Homo sapiens: one gene and its partners. The protein of the gene in region 1 binds, or shares a complex with, the protein of each later gene. Each region holds a gene or a part of one and is shown on either strand. Other genes may lie near its edges. A codon is read from its position in the direction of its gene.

Region 1 (7,031 bases):
TACTTCAAAAGTGAGCTTGAAATTGTTTTAAGTGAACTATGGCTGCGGATTTTTTACTGTTTTATCTCAGGGAGCATACAGTGGAGTGATTAAAGTTTGGACTCCTTCTCCTTGTGATGAAGAGAAACAGTGAGTCCAGCTCTTAGGAATGGCATCAGTTCTCCTGCAAACAAAATGCTGGGATGCAGACTTTTGGCACATTGTGGAAGTAGGAGAACTATTAATCCTGTAATGGTTTTCATGCCACTGGGTCAGGAAGGCTGTCCTACACTAAACCTTACTGCATCTGAAAACATGTTTACATCCCAACAAGCCACCTTAGCTTTTTTTTTTTTTTTTGAAAGGAAAATGAGATTACAAGTCAATACCTCCACAGAGAGGTAACTCCTAATATTCCTATGATCTCTGAACCCTATTTAAACCCTCCTAAAATAAAAATATCATTTTGGTTTTTCTATTATATTTAACTCTAAAGGCGGGCTCTGACTAATTTGCTTGGGCTTGATGCTACAGTATTAGCACAAGCTATAAGCTCCCTACCACCATATAAGCCTTGCTCTTCGGCCTTCCATCATTTTGAACCCTAAACCTCATAGATTTAGAACGAAACACTGTATAAAAACAAACAGATAAAGGGTTAAAATATTACAAATAAATAGCTAAAATAATCTTCCCTCCCCCAGTCACTCCTAAGAAACAGACACCAAACATTACTTAAGTGTCCAAAATGACCAAAGTCCTTCATTTGCCCATGACTCAAACGGACAACTACCTCAAACAAAGTTGAACAACCTTCATGCAAATGCATCAAGGAATGTATTGCTTTTTCATTTTCTGCCCAGCCCTTCATATACATGCACTAAAATGAGTTTAAAACATGGCCTAAAAATGGAAAAAGGGAGAAGAAAATATATATGAATATTTCCCACAAAACTGTTTCCCTCCCTTCCCTCTCCCTACACCCCTCCCACCCCCCTCCCTTTCTTAAGCAAGTATTTTAACTTTCTTTCTGGCACAGGAACAAAGAAGACTTCCTGGTAACCAGAATCAAACCCTGTGGTTTCTTTAATAGGGTCTGGATATGCCTTTCTAATTCACCCAGCTTGATGTCAAAGCCATGCCATTTAGGATTCTTAACCAAATCAGACCTGTCTGACTCACCCCTTATGGTGGTTTGCCTATAAACTTATCAATAGTTTTTTTTCCTCTGGCCCTGTTTCTTTTAGGAAATAAGGTTCCTAATTCCCAATCAGGGCCACATCCATAAGATCATCATCTTCCTCCCCAATCATAAAGTCTGGGCTGAGCCTTGAGGGTCTGTCTGCAGATAAGATTGTGTTACTTGTCATAGACAAGGACTGGTCTGAAGAGATGGGTGATTTGGACCAACTCTCTGGCTTGATGCTATGAGATTTTTTCTTGTCTCGGTCTTTGTCCCGGTCTCGGTCCCTATCTTTGTCTTTTACTTTCTTCTTTTCCTTTTTGTGCTTCTTATGTTTCTCTGTGCTGTATTCTGGAAGTGGTCGGATACCATCGTCTGAGCTGGGACTATTCTGATAAGATTTCTCTGCTATGGAGGAGCCTGACTCACTTTCACTGTCCAGATTCTGGGGGGTATATGCTGGTGACTTACTATGGCTGGGAGAGCCACGCTCATGCTTTGGAGTGGAACCACTGATGAGTGGAGAGCCATAGTTTTTAGAAGAAGCCATTTGAGGCCTAAGCCCTTCTCCACTACTTTCCCCAGGTTTCTGCAAAGTCACTTTGGCTTTAATGCTAGGGGAGCCTCCATCATGCTTACTGATGATAATTTTTGCCACACCTGTGCTCCCCACATTTTTTGACTCTGAGGTCTTCTTAGAAGAATCCACTGAACTCCCGGAGGTGGAAACCTTTGATTTGTCTTTATCACTTTTCTCACGCTTGCCCTGAAACTCTCCTCCTGACATGTTATGTTTGGAGGACATAGGATGGCTGGAAGAATTTGTGCTCACCCCCATCTGGCCGTCCAGTGGGTCTTCACCCCCAGGGCCACTGGTGACAACCCCATGCTTCAGTTTATCTATGACAGCTGTCAAGGACGGCTTCTTGTTTCTGCTGGGAGATTTTCCTTTAGAACTCCCATGCTGGTTCTGAGAGGATGACATGGAAGAGCCACTTGAGGAAAAGGAGGAGGAAGATGCCGTACAGGAATTAGATGATGGGGGAGTTTTCTGGGACAACGAGCCTGAGGATCCTAACCCTGAAGATGACTTCATGCCAGAGCTTGAACTAGTTCCAGACATATGAGAACCACCAGAACCTGAACTGATAGGGGACTTGGCTTTAGAGGATGGAGGAGTTCCAGGAACAGGCTTCATTGGAGAGGCAAGCTTGTCAGAGCCTCCAGGTGGCCTTGAATGAGAAGGGGATATGTTTGGTTTACTTAAAGAAGGATTCATAAGTGATGATGGCTTTCCTTGAGGTTTCATCTTGGTGCTGCTAGAGCCACTGCTCAGTCCATGCTTGGTTATGGGAGAGGAGCCTGGCTTCCCCCCAGACTGGGATGAATTTTTGGACTGGCTAGATCCAGAAGACCCCTGGCTAGAATACATACTGCTACTTAACTTGGAACTTGATGAACCTTCTGATTTACTGCTTTTCATCTTCCCTGAGGTGGAAGCAGATGAGGAAGAGGAGGAAGAATGGCTATGGTGGCTTTTGCTGCCTGAGGAAGACACAGAACCACTGCTGGTATACTGACTGTGAGAGGAAGGCTTGCCCACCATCACTGTTCCCTTAGGAATCTGAATAGTGATTTTGGGAATGGGTGGTGTGGCAACACCTGGGGGAGTCTGAGATCTTCCTGCACTGCCTGGCGATTTAGATCCACCTGTACTGGTAGGTGGGGTAAAAGGTCTGTTAGAAGAACTATGAGATGGAGACTTTCCCTCAGTGTCTGCCTTCTTCCGCTTTGGAGGCTTATCTTTGCTTTTCCCATCATTAGAAGGGGTCCGACTGCGCTTCCCTGGTTTGCTGTCTAATCCGGGCCCCGAGAGAGTACTATTACTGGTGCCATTGCCTTCCTTTACCCTCTTTTGAGTCTTTTCTTTCCCTAAGTCCCCAGTGGTCAGTAAAGGACCCTGACTACCACTGTGATGCTCCATAAGATCTGCAGGAGCTAAAGCTTTGCCGGCTACTGAAATAATACTGAAATCAACTGTGTCGGCTTGGTTATTGCCCTTAAACTTGGTCTCCCCATTATCACCTCCAAGCATTGGCACCCCCAAAGTATTTAGTGCCTGAGATGCAAATCCTTTGAAATCATCATTATCCCCACTTTGGCTGCTTTCATCAAAATATTCTTCTCCAAAACCACTTTGGCTCTGGCTGTTCAATAAATCAGGATTGAAATCTACTCCATCATGAAAAAAATGATTGGTAGGAGAGTCACTACTGGGGCTTCCAGCAGCATCTGCAATAAGATCAGCTGGATCAGTGTATGGATTTTCATTATTGTTAGTTTGAAAGACATCAGAGTCAAACAGGGTACTCTGAGAATGCCCAGAGCTTGAAGAATCTCGAAGAGGGGTGCCAATGGCTGGGCAATCATCACTAGTGCTGGGAAGTTTAGAAGCTTCTTCTGCAATGTCTGAAAGGATGTCAGTTACATCTGGGCCAATGCTGTCTGAACTGGATAGTCGGACCATCCTTTGAATACTGGGTTGGGGGTGAGGTACTGGTTGTGGGTAAGTTGTTGGGGGAGTGCTACACTGGCTTGGAGCTGGAGTGATGTGTGGCGTATCCAGCGTGTCAGCTGTCATGTTGACATCAAAGATAGGGTTCTGTGAGTCAACATCCATTGAAAATAGCTCCCTCTGAAAGTCATCTTCAGTCTGGTGCTTTGGTTTCTCAGGTGGTAATCTTGATGACTTCTTTTTCTTGGTCTTGTTGCTCCCCGAGCATATTTCCATGCGGGGTGAGCCGGAAGAGGAGTTCTGCCTTTCTAAAGGGCTGCTTCCATAAAGGGTTGAGAAATCCTGGGCAGGATTATCTTTAAGAAGGTTCATGAGCATCGGGTGGTTCTTGGTGTTGCCGGCCATCGAAGAGACAGGTGGCGGCGTGTGATGAGGAGGGGTCGGACTCGAGCCAATGGTAGACCCCCCGTTCCCTGTGATTTGCAACAAACTGGTAAGAATTGGGTTCTGAGACACCTTGCTGAAGTCCTCCCCATGGCCCACCGACTCATGCCGATCTTTGATGCTCATGCTCATATTAAACAAGGTGGTAATGGGACCCCCCGGAAAGGTGTTGGTTGGTGTAGTGGTACCACTCATTGGGTTGTTGCCTGTGGTCATGCCATACCCTGGGCTGCTAGCCGGGGGCAGGTTCTTTTTCACCATGTCTTCAACTGTCTCTGCAATGAGGGACAGTGCTGGGGTGTCGGCTTGAATGGTTTCAGCTTTCCTCCGAATAGCCCTCATCGTCACAGGGATGGACATACATCTGCAAAATAAAGAAGAAAACAAAGTTAACATTGCAATAGCTGCTGAATGAGACCTGAGATTTAGATATAACATCAGAGTTTTGCAGTAAGCAGTTTTCAGGTAGGGCAAATAATCTGTAAGACAAAAATAGTTCTATCAAATACCAGAGCTTTGGGTAAATACATTCTAAAAATCTAACCCAACATAAAATTGTCAACCTCTTATGAATCACACAACAAAAGCAAACTATAAACAAGAGTCCAAATAATTGAATTTCAAACTTAACTAAAAGAAAATTGGTAATAATGGAACTCAGTAAGAAAATGCCTCCTTAGGGGCCGGGCACAGTGGCTCACGCCTGTAATCCCAGCACTTTGGGAGGCCAAGGCGGCTGGAACATGAGGTCAGGAGATCGACACCATCCTGGCCAACATGGTGAAACCCCGTCTCTACTAAAAATACAAAAATTAGCTGGGCGTGGTGGCGCGTGCCTGTAATCCCAGCTACTCGGGAGGTTGAGGCAGGAGAATTGCTTGAACAAGGGAGGCGGAGGTTGCATTGCACTGAGATCACACCACTGCACTCCAGCTTGGCAACAGAGTGAGACTCCGTCTCAAAAAAAAAAATGCCTCCTTAGGTCGGGCGCGGTGGCTCACTCCTGCAATCCCAGCACTTTGGAAGGCCGAGGAGGGTGGATCACTTCGGGTCAGGAGTTTGAGACCAGCCTGGCCAGCGGGGTGAAACCCTGTCTCTACTAAAAATACAAAAAATTAGCCAGCCGTGGCGGTGCACAGCTGTAATCCCAGCTACTCAGGAAGGGTAGACAGGAGAATCACTTGAACCCAGGAGGCAGAGATCGCAGCGAGCCAAGATCGTCCCATTGCACGCCAGCCTTGGTGACAGTGCAAGACTTCATTTCAAAGGAAAAAAGAAAATGTCGTCCTCTGGGGGGCTTCATATGGTAATTACAGGGATACATAATTTATTTTAATTAAGGAACCATTAGAAAAATCTCCGCCGGTCAGAGTGGCTCACGCCTGTAATCCCAGCACTTTGGGAGGCCGAGGCGGGTGGATCACAGGGTCAGGAGTTTTGAGACCAGCCTGGCCAACATAGTGAAACCCCATCTCTACTAAAAAAAAGAAAAAATACAAAAAATTAGCTGGGCATGGTGGCAGGTGCCTGTAATCCCAACTACTTGGGAGGCTGAGGCAGAATTGCTTGAACCCGGGAAGCAGAGGTTGCAGTGAGCTGAGATTGTGCCATGGCACTCCAGCCCAGGTGACAGTACAAGACTCCATCTCAAAAAAAAAAAAAAGAAAAGAAAAATCTCTTGACCCATTAAGTACTAAACCTTAATGACTTAGATCATCCCAAACCTACACTATTATAAAAAGTGCTATTTCTGTTATAAATCTTGTTTATTTTAAAGCAAAGCACTTTTTATTTTCCAGATAAATTTATATTCATAAACCTCAGTTTGCAAACGTTTTGCTCTAGAACATATGTCAGCAAATTTTTTTTTCTTTTTTTTTTTTTTTTTGAGACGGAGTTTTGCTCTTGTTGCCCAGGCTGGAGTGCAATGGCGCGATCTTGGCTCACTGCAACCTCCACCTCCCAGGTTCAAGTGATTCTCCTGCCTCAGCCTCTCGAGTAGCTGGGATTACAGCCATGCGCCATCACGCCCAGCTAATTCTGTATTTTTAGTAGAGACAGGGTTTCTCCATGTCAGTCAGGCTGGTCTCGAACTCCTGACCTCAGGCGATCCACCCACCTCCCAAAGTGCTGGGATTATAGGCGTGAGCCACCACACCCAGCCAGCAAATTTTTCTTTTTTTTTTTTTTTTTTTCTTTGAGACAGAGTCTCGCTCTGTTATCCAGGCTGGAGTGCAGTGGCATGATCTTGGCTTACCGCAACTTCCGCCTCCCAGGTTCAAGCAATTCTCTGCCTCAGCCTCCCAAGTAGCTGGGATTACAGAAGCCCGCCACCACGCCCAGCTAATTTTTGTATTTTTAGTAGAGATGGGGTTTCACCATCTTGGCCAGGCTGGTCTTGAACTCCTGACCTCGTGATTTACCCGCCTCAGCCTCCCAAAGTGCTAGGATTACAGGGGTGACCCCCGCACCCGGCCGCAAATTTTTCTTATAAGGCCATATAGTAATCCGTTAGGCTTTGTAGGTCTTGTTTCCTGTTCACCTACTCTGCAATATTAACTAGAAATCTGCCACAGACATGTAAATGAACAGCAGTGTTCCAATAAAATTTATTTACAAAAATAGGCTGCCAGACCCAGCTGTAGAAAAATCTCAAAAAATTACATATTAATGGTTCTGGGATGCATACTGGCTTAACTATCACGTAACAATTAAGTTGGCTTTTTGTTTGTTTTGAGATGGCATCTTGCTCTGTCTACCAGGCTGGAGTGGAGTGGCACAATCTCGGCTCACTGCAGCCTCCGCCTCCCAGGTTCAAGCAATTCTCCCGCCTCAGCCTCCTGAGTAGCTGGGATTATAGGCACCTGCCACCACACCTGGCTAATTTTTATATTTTTATTTATTTAGTTA
Region 2 (4,836 bases), 610 kb from region 1:
CTCGGAAAGCAGGGTCAGAAGTTCCCACTGCCAGCTCGGAGTCATCCATCTAGGGGCTCAGAGATGTGTGAGGCAGGCAAGGAAGGGTTAAAGAAAGGTCCGGCCCCTCATCCCCCCGCCTCCCATCCCCCAGTCCTTTTTTGGAGGCAACAGATCAAATCCCAGGCTAGTCAGAGTGTGGGTGGTGTTGGACCAGGTTCGGGAGACAGCAGAGCAGGCCACCCTGCCCCAGCACTGTGGGGCCCTGAGCCAAAGCCTCTCCCCTTTCAGGGTACAGCTGGCTTTGGGGGAGGGGGCAGCAGGCCAGCCAACTTGGCTCCAAGGAAGGGAAGCTGCTTTCCCCTGGCCCTTCCCCAGCTGAGCAAGCCCACATAGGACCCTGAGCCCTGCCGCCTCTGCTCCTCTTCCTCCTCCTCCTCACCACAGGAGTGAGCCGTTCCCTGGCCACAGCACAGGAGTCCAGGGAGAGGACACTATGCCCTGCCCCGGGTGGCACCAATACCAACAGCACACACAGTCACAAAGGGAGCCACGAGGAGCTTTATTTATACATGAACGAAGGTAGATTTCCCTCACATATTACAAAATACACACAAACACACACACACACACACACACACACACATACACACTTTGCATCTAGAAAGTTCCTCAGAGGTAAGACTACTCCTGGGCTGGGGCGGGCGCACACAGGGGTGACCACTGGGCTTGTGGTCCAGGCTGCTCACTCTCCTCAGGTGCCAGCAGATGGAGAGGAAATTTTGAAAGAAGAAACCGGGAGACATCCTGGAGGTCAGGAGTCAGGAGCGGGGAACTGGAAGCCGCTAGAGGCTCTTGCACCATGTGGAGCGGATGTGAGGCACGATGCCTCATCTTTCCTCACTGCTTCCCTTGGAGGCGCCTGGGGCTGCGCCAGTCCCCAGCCCCCACTGCGGCCATGCCAAGCCCCTCAGAGTGCAGCAATGGCTTTAGCAGCCACCTGGCGGCCCAGGGGCAGGCTGAGGTCCGTGATGGCCAGAACCACCTTGGGGCTGGACATGGCTGACACCTTCACCAGTTCCGACACCTGCCACGGACAGACAGATGCTGCTTGCGGGACGGCTGGTGGTGGGTGTGCTGTCCCAGGGGGAAGGAGGCCCCTCCCTGCTCTAAGGGCTGCCCCGAGGCCCCAGCACCAGCAGGAGAGCCGGGAAGGTGGTACTCACGGTGGTGAAGGGCATGAACTGCAGGACGCTGCCACGGCCACCCTGCTCCAGGCAGTCCACACACTCCTCCATGAACCACTGCACGAACTGGGTGTGGGGGCCAGCGGTGCGAGACCCCAGGATGGAGGAGATGAGCAGGAACAGGTTGGCTGTAGAGAGTGGGGGGAGAGTGACAGGAGGGAGTTCCATGAGAGTGGGTGAGGTCACACTCTGGGAGAAGGTGGGACTGAAAAGGGAAAAGAAACACATGCTGAGCATGTCCCCAAAATGGGGTGTCAGAGAGAGAAAATATAAAAGGCAATTGGGGAGGGGAGGAGGGGGAACTAGACAGGAGCCTGGGGGCCAGGACAGCCAACAATGAGGGGCATGGAGAGGGAAGGGAGGGGCACCGCAAGGCCCCTTCCAGCTGACAAGGTCTCCCAGCCTCCATGAGAAGAGAGACTCGTCCAGCTTAGCCCCAGGTTCGGCAGCAGGGGTGGGGAACTCACCCAGGACTCGGTTCAGAGGGTCCCGCATGTTGACCGTGTGGAGCTGAGAGGCTGAGAGGGAGCTGCTCATGGATCGGTCTGCTGTGGGACGGAGCAGATGGAGCGCTGGGAAACAGCCTGCCGAGTGCAAAAGTGGTGCTCCCCGGGGATGCCCCAACCCGACCTTCACCCATCGGAGGTAACTGGTACATGGAGAGCCCAGAGAAGACCCTGAGATCAAGAGCACAAAGGGAGGCCAGGTACAGTGGCTCACACCTGTAATCCCAGCATTTTGGGAGGCCGAGGCAGGAGGATCGCTTGAGTCCAGGAGTTTGAGACCAGCCTTGGCAACTAGCGAGACCTCATCTCTACAAAAAATACAAAAATTAGCTGGGTGTGGTGCCAACGCCTGTAGTCCCAGCTCCTCGGGAGGCTGAGGCAGACTGCTTGAGCCTAGGAGAACAAGGCTGCAGTGAGCCGAGATGGTGCCACTGCACTCCAGCCTGAGCAACAGAGCAAAACCGTGTCTCAGAAAAACAGGCTGGGCGTGGTGGCTCACGCCTGTAATCCCAGCACTTTGGGAGGCCAAGGCGGGTGGATCATCTGAGTTCAGGAGTTCGAGACCAGCCTGACCAATATGGTGAAACCCCGTCTCTACTAAAAATACAAAAATTAGCCAGGCGTTGTGGCAGGCGCCTGTAGTCCCAGAGACTCAGGAGGCTGAGACAGGAAAATTGCTTAAACCCAGGAGGCGGAGGTTGCAGTAAGCTGAGATCGTGCGACTGCACTCCAGCCTGGGCAACAGAGGGAGACTCCAACTCAAACAAACAAACAAACAAACAAACAAAAAACAAAACAAAAAAAGGGCACAGAGGGACCTCAGATACAGAGATCCCAATGGAATGAGAGAGAAAAACTAACATGTGGTGAGCACACAGGGCCAGGGGCCGATCTTGGTACTTCCTAAGCTGCTTACTCCTCACAACACCCCATTTACAGATGAGGAGACCCAGACGGGGGCTGGCTCAGTCGCTAGCTAAAGGTCACAGCACTTGTAGCTGGCAAACCTAGCATCTTTCTTCTGATCAAGTGTATAGTTGGTCCCCTAGTTCCTAAAAGGCTTCAGAGAAAAGTTCAGGCTCAGGAGAAATCTCTGGAAACAGGAAAAATGCCACAGAAGGAACCCTTGGCAGTAAGCCTGGCAGGGAGGAGGGGACAGTGAAAAGGATGACCTCCAGGGAAGTGGTTGGTGGGGGGTGTGCTCTTTAGGCAGGAAGGTGGGGAGTAGCCCCATGCCCCAGCCCGGGCCTCTCCGGGCATGTTTTGGGGGAAGGAAGGAAGGAAGGTCAGAGCTGGTGAGTCAATGGCACAGGCTGTGCCTGAGGCAGTGAACTCACTCACTTGGGTAGCTTGTCATCCCCTCAACCCTGGGGTAAGGGAGGGGCAGGAGGGCTGTGGGGGAACAACTGTGGGCTGGGCTGGACCTGGGCAGAGGAGCTTCAACCCTCAGGGAGTGAGAACAGCAACCTCTTCTCCAGGGGCAGGACACAGAGCACCCCCTTGGGGGCTAGAACAGCAGGTCCCTGCCACACCCTCTCTGACCAGCTGCAAAGATGCCTGCAGCTGGGGCAGCGGCAGAGTGGCAGCATCGGGGAGTGAATTCCCAGGAAAAGGAGCGGCGCGCGGCCAGCCCACACACTCACTGGGGCTCGAAAGGATGTTGGCATCGTCCTCATTAGAGCTCAGCAGTCGCATCAACTTCGAAGGCTGCACATCGTCCAGGGGGAAGAGGCTGATATAATCCTAGAGGGAGTGAAAGTCACTGTTATACACCCCTAAACCCCCCAGTTTCCAGCTGTCAGGGAAAAGAGCTTGAGCTCCGATTTGAGCGAGGTCAGCATGGCTAGCAGGGCCTCAGCCCCTCTCTGCTCAACCCCTCCCACAATCTGACAGGCCCCTTGTGCCCATGGGCAAGCTGGGGCCACACAAATCACCCATGCAGATTCCTGACCAATCATGCCCAGGCACAGCTGCCCCAAGGGCAGGGGCCACAACTGCTTCCCTTTGCCTGGGGAATCCTTAGGAAATGCTGTAACAAACCGGTGAACAAGTGAAGCCGGCGAGGGCAGCTGGGGGGCCTACCTCAATGTCTTCGCGGTGTCTCTTCTTCTGGCGGGTGGACGCCTGTCCCTTGTGGGAGGAGTAGGAACTGAGGGCACACCACACGGCCAGCCTGGCAAAGGGTTCCAGAAAAAGGGGGACAGTGAGAGGTGCCCCAGGAGCTTTCTGTGTCTGACTGGGCTCCCCAAAGCCCAGTCTCCCAGGGTGGCACCAGGCGAGGGGTGCTTGACCCTGGGTGGCCGGAGCAGGGCAAGCTCTGAAGAGAATCTTACTTGGCAAGAGCAGTGCCCGGGGGGTCCATGAGGCTGTGCCACTTGGAGGAGTCAGTGAGCAGGCCAGGTAGGATGTGGCCCAGCAGGACCAGGGTCACTTGCTGCATGTCCAGGCAGAAGATGGAGTAGAGCAGCTCCACTGCCCGCAGCGTGTGCTCCTTCCGCGTCTCCTTCAGCAGCTCCTAGTGCGCAGGAAAGGGGGCAGTTCAGGAGCCAGGGGCCCGGGATCTGGGGCTCCTACACCCTGCCACCCCAGCATGGCTGTCCAGTAAGGCCCGCAGAGGGGGCCCCAGATGTTGCTCCGCCCCTCAGGCTGAATCCCAGTCTCTGGCCAGAGCTCCCCAAGGAGGCAACTCTGAGGCGAGGCATTCCGGGGAGGCCACCTGGCTCACGGCAGCCTCTCAGGGAAGCCTGGCAGACCAGGCCAGGTGTGGGGAGCCAGGGGACAGGACCCATGTCGGCCCACAGCCACTCCAGCCCAAGTACCTTAATCAGGTTGTTGCAGAACCAGTAGACGCCGCCCATGTGCAGCAGGGTGTCAAAGATGTGGATGGAGCGGCTGTCCACCCAGCCCTTCTCCAGCACCTTGGCAAAAATGTCCGTCAGCACCTCTTTGATGGGCCGCTTGGGGGGCAGCAGGTTCCAGTAGGGCATTGTGTCCACCCCGGTGGAGGGAAACTTGATCTGCGTGGCTGTCTGCTGCAGCACGTCGGCACACATGCGCTCCAGGATCGAGTTCATGATCACCACCCTGGGGGAGGGCCGAGAGAA
Region 3 (7,031 bases), on another chromosome or scaffold:
TTGGGAGGCTGAGGTGGGAGAATCACTTGAGCCCAACTGTAAAATGGCCACGTATTACTTTTATGAAGTAGCATGATCATAGCTTACTAACTGCAGTTAGAAGCTGCAGTGAGCTATGACTGTGCAACTGCACTTCAGTCTGGGTGACAGAGTGAGGCCCTGTCTCACAAAAAAAAAAAAAAAAAAAAAAAGGAAAAAAAAAAAAGAAAAAAAAAAGAAAAAAGTCACACTCAGAAGAAAATCTGGCTTTTGGAATTGGTTAGTCAGATCATGTACTACTTGCAGGGCCAAAAATACAACAAATTGCTAAATAACTAAATTTATTTCTATGTTGTGTGTTCGGTTCACATTGCATTCTTAATCACAACCAACTACCTCACAAAGGTACTTTAAGGGAAGCCATCAGAGGAATCCACACAAGAGAGTGGGTGGAGGTCAGTAGGTATTCCTTAATTCCTGATATCACAAAAGCAATTCAAAGTAGTATCTTACTGATGGTGGGGCAGGAGCATGATTTGACCAGAAATACTTAGTGGTCCCTTCTCTACATCAAGTGAGCATTGTCTTAAGCAAAGTTATACATGCCATTACTTACAGGAACCAAAGATTAGACTGGCCTCTAATCTTCCTTTCTGGAAGGAAAAGAAAGAGACAAAGAAAAGAAAAGAAAAAGAAAAAGGAGAAGAGGGCATTTGACTGGAAAAAATATATTGTTGAGGGATGAAAGAGAAGATCCTGGGTTACTTATAACCTTCACACCGCAAACCTATGACACTCTTTCTTGGTACAGTGTTTTGCACGTGTAGTGATGATTCATGGCATCATGCCACTGGCACTTAAAGTGACAATGCAGACTAACACTAAGGAAATCCAAAATTCTTTTGGCCACCCCACCATCATCCCACCCTCTTTCATAGAAGATCAAAAGACAAATCTTACCTCCACTGAGAATAATGACAGCAATAAATATTGCCAAGTCGCTGTCATCTAATTCCAGTGCATTGAACTTCACAGCAAACTCAAACTTGGGCTCCATAAAGTCACCAAAAGGCTTTCGCAGGCTCTTTAGAAACTCCCTTGTCATGAAGCCTTGGCCCTCGGATATGAGAACCCCATCTTTATTCATCAAGGAGGCCAGCATTGTGTAAATGATCTCGTGGACTCCATATTTGAGGAGAGTTACTTGGTCGTTCAAGTCAAGATTTACAAAACCAGGAATGCTTTTGGCATACTCTGTGATCTCCTGCACAGCCTCCACGGAGCGAAACTGGCAGCCCTGAAAGATGCGGATGGCCACCTCTTTGCTCTGCTCCTGCAGGGGGGTGATGTGTTTGAACTTGATTTTATCTTCTCCCATCATTAAGGAATTCATGTCATAGATAACGAATGGCTGCAAATAAAACAGGGAAAACGTGGATGACTTGGAGATTTCTAACTCACAGTGAATGCCATCCCAGGTTCAGAAAACTGTTTATGTAAACTTGCTTTGCTAACTAAAATCTTTAAAGCTGAAGATGCTTAATAATGAGAAAATACTCTCAAGTTCTTTTATTCATCTTAATTATCTTCTGGGACCAAACATATTTCACCAATTTTGGTCTTCTTTCCCTTCAATTTACACTGTAACACTTTACCTATGACTGGCTAAGAATCCTGATTTCTTTTGTTTGGGGAGTCTTCATTGTTGATTTTTATATTATTTGTTTGTTTGTTTTTGAGACAGAGTCTCACTCTGCGCCCAGACTGAATTACAGTGGCACAATCAGGGCTCACTGCAACCTCCACCTCCCAGGTTCAAGCAATTCTTGTGCCTCAGCCTCCTGGGTAGCTGGGATTACTGGCATGCACTGCCACACCCAGCTGATTTTTGTATTTTTAGTAGAGATGGGGTTTCACCATGTTGGCCAGGCTGGTCTTGAACTCCTGGCCTCAAGTGATCTGCCTGCCTTGGCCTCCCAAAGGGCTGGGATTACAGGCATGAGCCACCACACCCGGCCGATTGTTGATTTTTAAAATGATACAAAATCTACTGTTTATCTTGGCTTTCAATGAAATACACTTTTAACCTTCTTTCAATAAAAAACCATTTCAGCAACTCAGCGTTGAAAATACCCACTTGAACATAAAGTAACTACAGGTTTAAAAAAATTTTTTTTTCTTAAAATTTCTTTTTCCTTTTCCTTTGTTCTCCTTCACAGGTAATAACTTTTCCGTTTTAGATGAAATCCTCTCAGATCTCAAATGAAACTATGTGCACATAAAATATGCTTAACTATGAAAAATCACTCGGAAAGCAGATTACAGCTCTTGAACCAAGAAAATGTCTATTTCTTTTTTTAATGCTCTGGAAGCCATCTATTTCACAAAGAGCAGATATAGAAGGCCTACAGGTGAATGCTGCAAAAAAGCAATTTTGAATTTATATTTTAAAATATCTGTCCTTATAGGTCAAACAATCAATAAAATACATGCCCCAATTATTCAAGTTTGCAATAGGCTGCCTTCAAAAGTTAAGTCATTTGGTCATGACATTCTCTCTCTTTTACTTCCCTTGTATAGAACTAAGCAAGGTTTGTAGTCATTGAGAAATTCTCAAGGCTGTTCTGACTAAGGGGTAACATTTTACTTACACTGGATACACTGAATGACACATAAGGAGTTAAACCTTGAATCCTGTTCAAATACTTGTATACCTGAAAGCACTGGAAGAAGAGCTGAGGGTATGTGTGTTCCAGCTTTGGTTCTGTGGTGAGCCATGTGACTTAAGAAAAGTCATTTACCTTTCCTAGGCCTTAAATTTCTCAATCAGGGGTTTCCATCTCTTCTCCGGAGGAAATTCTAGTTGCATTTCTCAGAAGCAGGATGTGTGTGGGGAGTGGGCATATGTGTGGAGAGGTGTGAGTGTGCATGCACGACAAACATGAAGTCTCTGATGGACTAAAAGTAAAGATTGTTTTGAGCAGAGATGCTGACAATTCTCTCCTGAAAGGAGAGAAGGTGCATGAGTGGCCGTGGCAGCCGGCTTCAAGATGCACTGGTTGGAGATTCTATTCATATCTATGGAACTCTATGATTTTCATCAAAAGATTAAGTTTGTTCTAAACTGGAGGAAATAACACCAACATTGAGGAGTCTCAGATATTAAATATATTTCCAAACTTGTACGTCACATCAACACCCTTTACTGGAGTTATTCTGGAAGTTTTTACTTTTGTTACCAAAAAATTCACTTCAACTGTACTACTTAGCAAACTCCAAAAGAGGACAGATGTGAGGACCCCCAAACAGGTTTACTTGGTGGCTCTAATTTTTAAGGAAATTGGGACCAAACTGTCCTTACCGTATTTCTTAAACATTTTGCTTGGGTGGTTTCTTTCCTTTTTCTTTTTTTCTTTTCAGGATTAATATTATTAATGGGAGGAATACAAGGGGGGCAGAGCAAGTAACATCGATGAAAATTTACTGTATTTTTCCAGAACGTCAGGTTCTAATTATGAGAAAAATGTGAATGGATAATGATGCTTTCACAGAACCTAGAGAAAACGTGTTTCTTGTCCTCCAGGCATTTTACAGTGTATTATAATTTATATTAATGAAATATTTACTTTCTTTTTCTAAAAAAAAATTATTTCATTTTTTGAGATGAGGTCTTGCTATGTATGTTGCCTGGGCTGGTCTTGAACTCCTGGGCTCAAGTGATCGTCCTGCTTTGGCCTCCCTAAGTGCGTGCTAGGATTACAGGTGTGAGCCACCACAACTAGCCTTTATTGGCTTTCTTTCATGTCATGAGAAAATGATGATCTGGACACCTGAAAAGACCAACTGCACATGCAGGAGTACAAATAACATGAATATAAAATCATCACCTTTTCACATGTGGAAAGACTGTACCCAGAACTGCCCACTTCAACTTTCAGAGCTTCTGCTCAACCATTTGGCTTCTTGGCACAGAACATATGCATGAAATTCTTTCACCTCCATGTAAGTGATTTATCTGGAACTATGCCCTGATAAATCACCCTTGTCACTCTTCCCCTTTACTTCCCCTGTCCCCTCATATAAAGCTCCAGGTTCCTGTTTTTGAAACTCTGTAATAGTTGAACATAGGGCACAAAATCCTGCTAATTTTCTCTCCCAATTTAACAACAATGTGACTTTAACCCCTTGGCAATTGATGTTGGTCAGGATTTCCTGGCAGTAAATACTCAAGGACAGAGAGAGGAATCAGCACCCCACCATCATGCCAAACCATTTCATTTTTTTTTTTTTTTTTTTTTGAGATGGAGTTTTGCTCCTGTTGCCCAGGCTGGAGTGCAATGGCGCAATCTAGGCTCACTGCAACCTCCACCTCCTGGGTTCAAGTGATTCTCCTCAGCCTCCAGAGTAGCTGGGATTACAGGCACCCACCACCACGCCCGGCAATTTTTTTTAAATTTTTTTATTTTTTAGTATAGACGGGGTTTCACCATGTTGGCCAGGCTGGTCTTGAACTCCTGGCCTCAGGTGATCCACCCACCTCTGCCTCACAAAGTGATGGGATTACAGGCATGAGCCACCATGCCCGGCCCCATTCCAGCTTTTTCAATCCTTTCTGCATTCTGAAGAAGAGGTGAACTAGCAGAGAATTCTGGGTGTTGACATGCAAATGAACACCAGTTGTTTTATTTTTTCCCTAGTCATATCTGATTATACTGTTTTCACTGCATTTCCGAAGGCTGCATAGATTCTTTCAGCCTCCAGGTAGATCTGTCAAACTGCAAGAGTGATCCCTGGGTGGGCCTGGTCTGCCTTTCTTTGCAACCAATTCACCAATTCTTAGATAGCAGAGAGTTCACTTTCATATTTCACAGGGGACCTCCTTACCCTCAAACCTAGTGAGAAGATCGTGGCCAGCCTGCTTTATGGAGAGAGAACCTCTTAAAACCCTGGTCAAATTTGGTCTGCATTTTATCTTGAATCATTAATTTAACATGACATTTGGTACAATGTGGTACAATGTTCCATACAAAATGTACTGCACTTCCATGGCTGTTTTTTTGTATTTTTTACAAAGCAAAGTGGAGTCCTTACACTTTCCATCAGCTTGGACAGTATCATCCAAAGATTGCCATTATAGGAGCCGTATCATTCTCAAATTTTGTCTTAATGATTTTACACTTCTAGTTGGGGGCTAACAGTGTATTTATCTTCAGACCGTACATCAAAGGGCTGGGTAAGCGTCCCTCCTTAACAGGAAAGAAAGCTTAATTACAAATGGGACATGATGGGGTGAATTCAGGTTTTGTGGGGCATAAAATATACACAGTAGTGGAGTCTCTCTAAGGAAAATATTACAAATTATGAGAATAAAATTGCTTCGGCCCTTCCCCAAGCACTGGAAGGACTTCTGCACAAGGGAAGGGCCCCATGAAGCTTCATTAGCTTCATGGTGAATCTGTCACTGGTCATTGTGTGCTTGTGCTTTTCATATACTGGACAGACCAGAACGGAATGAAGAAAGCTGCACTTGAACCCAGTGTTTTTCCAGGAAAGCAAAATGATTTCTGTAAGGAGAAATCAATTTTTTGAGGGATACATCAAATATAATTAATTTTGATATATTTCAATTTTCAATATTTTGACATTTTGATTTTCAATTTTGACATATTTTGATTTTCAAAAATATATTTTGATTTTCAGGATGGGATTAAAAGTACTGTTTTATATAGATGAGTAAATTCAATTATAGATCTATGGCATGCTTCCTATGTAGAATACAAAGACAATGGGGGAAATGGGATTAATGATGAAAATAGAGTAATTAATTTTTTTTTTACCTTTTTGAATGGAGAAATAGAACAGTAGTGTTCCTGAGAAATCCAATAACATCAGCATTTTAACATGAGTTATGAAAGGTATTATACATGAATGCCCTAAGTTTACACTCCTTTTGAATAACAAAATAGCAAGCTACGGGAGATAAACATGAAAATCACTCAAAAAGCACAGGGTATTCTGGGTGACTTTTCTAATTTGGCAGATTGAATGAGTGTAGTCAACCCCTCTACCCTCTCTCAAACAATCACTTGAGGTAACCCTGTCAGAGTGAAAACTGGCTTGGAAAAATGTGTGCCTCATCGAGTGTGGCTTTCCTGATGTTCTTAGTTTTACCAGGGAAAGACACTGAATTCTTAGGGCTCATGTTCTTCATTTTGTTTCCTTCTTGCTTTTTACACATCTGACTTTCATCACCTTTGACACACCTGGTTCTCCTCGGTTAGCTACAATCCAAAACTCATTGGTTTGGTTTCCTCAGCCTCTCGTTGGTTTCTGCCCCTGTTGTTCCCGTTTCCCTCTTGTTGAGAACTATGAGATTTATAGGACATAAGGGGTCTTCAGAAGTAATCTGTCCCATCATTCTCTGACTAATGGATAAACGGAAGCCAGAGACATTCCAAAGTCAAAGTGCCATTTATAGCAAACCAGGAACTAGAACCTAAGCCCCGATTCTGGGTTGAGAACTTTTCCCTTTCCATTGCTTTCTATAGGACTTCCCCACTTCTTTTTTTCCTTTTAAAATGATTGTTCTAGGATGAACTGGAGATTTTAAACTAACGCTCTTAACATGCTGGGGTCTTGGGGCAGGGCCTTTTGAACCACTGTTTCCTAGAGGTGCTGGTGGAGTGCTGTGTGTGATAGAAGTGAAGTTTGAAAGCTGTCAAAGATATTCTGCTTTCCTGCAGGGTTTAGAGATTTACGACAAACAAATGAAAACTTAATATGAAGAATTATTCACATGCTAATGAACTAGCACATAACCACAGCTCTTAAAAAAATCAATTGCCAGCCAAAGAGTTACTCAGCAGGCAAACAAGGGTATTGGCCAACTGAGTCCAGCCATTGGAAAAAAAAAATCCAAGTGCTTTTCTTTTTAACTCTATAAAATATTATTTTTAACTTATTCTCTGAAAGAACACACTGGTTTAGATCTTTTACATCTTTAGCTATTCCTGACAGTCCTGGCAATAGAAGAATTTATTTTATTAATATTG

The links. The genes of interacting proteins can lie anywhere in the genome.
Region 2: the proteins of MED1 (region 1) and MED24 are in contact, whole or in part, in a cryo-EM structure (PDB 8T9D), measured with the Homo sapiens proteins. Residues at the interface, in NP_004765.2 of Homo sapiens: Phe375, Asn377, Gly436, Leu437, Gln439, Glu441, Ser453, Asn459, Asp460, Ser461, Leu462, Val463, Cys464, Tyr480, Lys481, Gly482, Asp485; in NP_055630.2 of Homo sapiens: Lys7, Ile10, Trp14, Lys15, Arg17, Leu47, Ala50, Met51, Ile52, Gly53, Pro54.
Region 3: the proteins of MED1 (region 1) and PPARG are in contact, whole or in part, in a crystal structure (PDB 6ONJ), measured with the Homo sapiens proteins. Residues at the interface, in NP_004765.2 of Homo sapiens: Asn638 (codon at 4,073), Thr639 (codon at 4,070), Asn641 (codon at 4,064), His642 (codon at 4,061), Pro643 (codon at 4,058), Met644 (codon at 4,055), Leu645 (codon at 4,052), Met646 (codon at 4,049), Leu648 (codon at 4,043), Leu649 (codon at 4,040), Lys650 (codon at 4,037), Asp651 (codon at 4,034); in NP_056953.2 of Homo sapiens: Val321, Gln322, Thr325, Glu326, Lys329, Phe334, Leu339, Asn340, Asp341, Gln342, Val343, Thr344, Leu346, Lys347, Gly427, Leu429, His494, Pro495, Leu496, Glu499, Ile500, Lys502.

What each region holds. Positions count from the first base shown.
Region 1 is NC_000017.11:39,406,237-39,413,267, forward strand, and holds part of MED1 (mediator of RNA polymerase II transcription subunit 1), read right to left. Parts: intron 4,486-7,031; coding exon 1,239-4,485; 3' UTR 1-1,238. UniProt on the Homo sapiens protein: Component of the Mediator complex, a coactivator involved in the regulated transcription of nearly all RNA polymerase II-dependent genes.
Region 2 is NC_000017.11:40,018,580-40,023,415, forward strand, and holds the end of MED24 (mediator of RNA polymerase II transcription subunit 24), read right to left. Parts: intron 4,817-4,836; coding exon 4,552-4,816; intron 4,248-4,551; coding exon 4,066-4,247; intron 3,906-4,065; coding exon 3,815-3,905; intron 3,476-3,814; coding exon 3,376-3,475; intron 1,775-3,375; coding exon 1,694-1,774; intron 1,355-1,693; coding exon 1,206-1,354; intron 1,067-1,205; coding exon 950-1,066; 3' UTR 525-949; downstream 1-524. UniProt on the Homo sapiens protein: Component of the Mediator complex, a coactivator involved in the regulated transcription of nearly all RNA polymerase II-dependent genes.
Region 3 is NC_000003.12:12,411,063-12,418,093, reverse strand, and holds part of PPARG (peroxisome proliferator-activated receptor gamma), read right to left. Parts: intron 1,391-7,031; coding exon 940-1,390; intron 1-939. UniProt on the Homo sapiens protein: Nuclear receptor that binds peroxisome proliferators such as hypolipidemic drugs and fatty acids.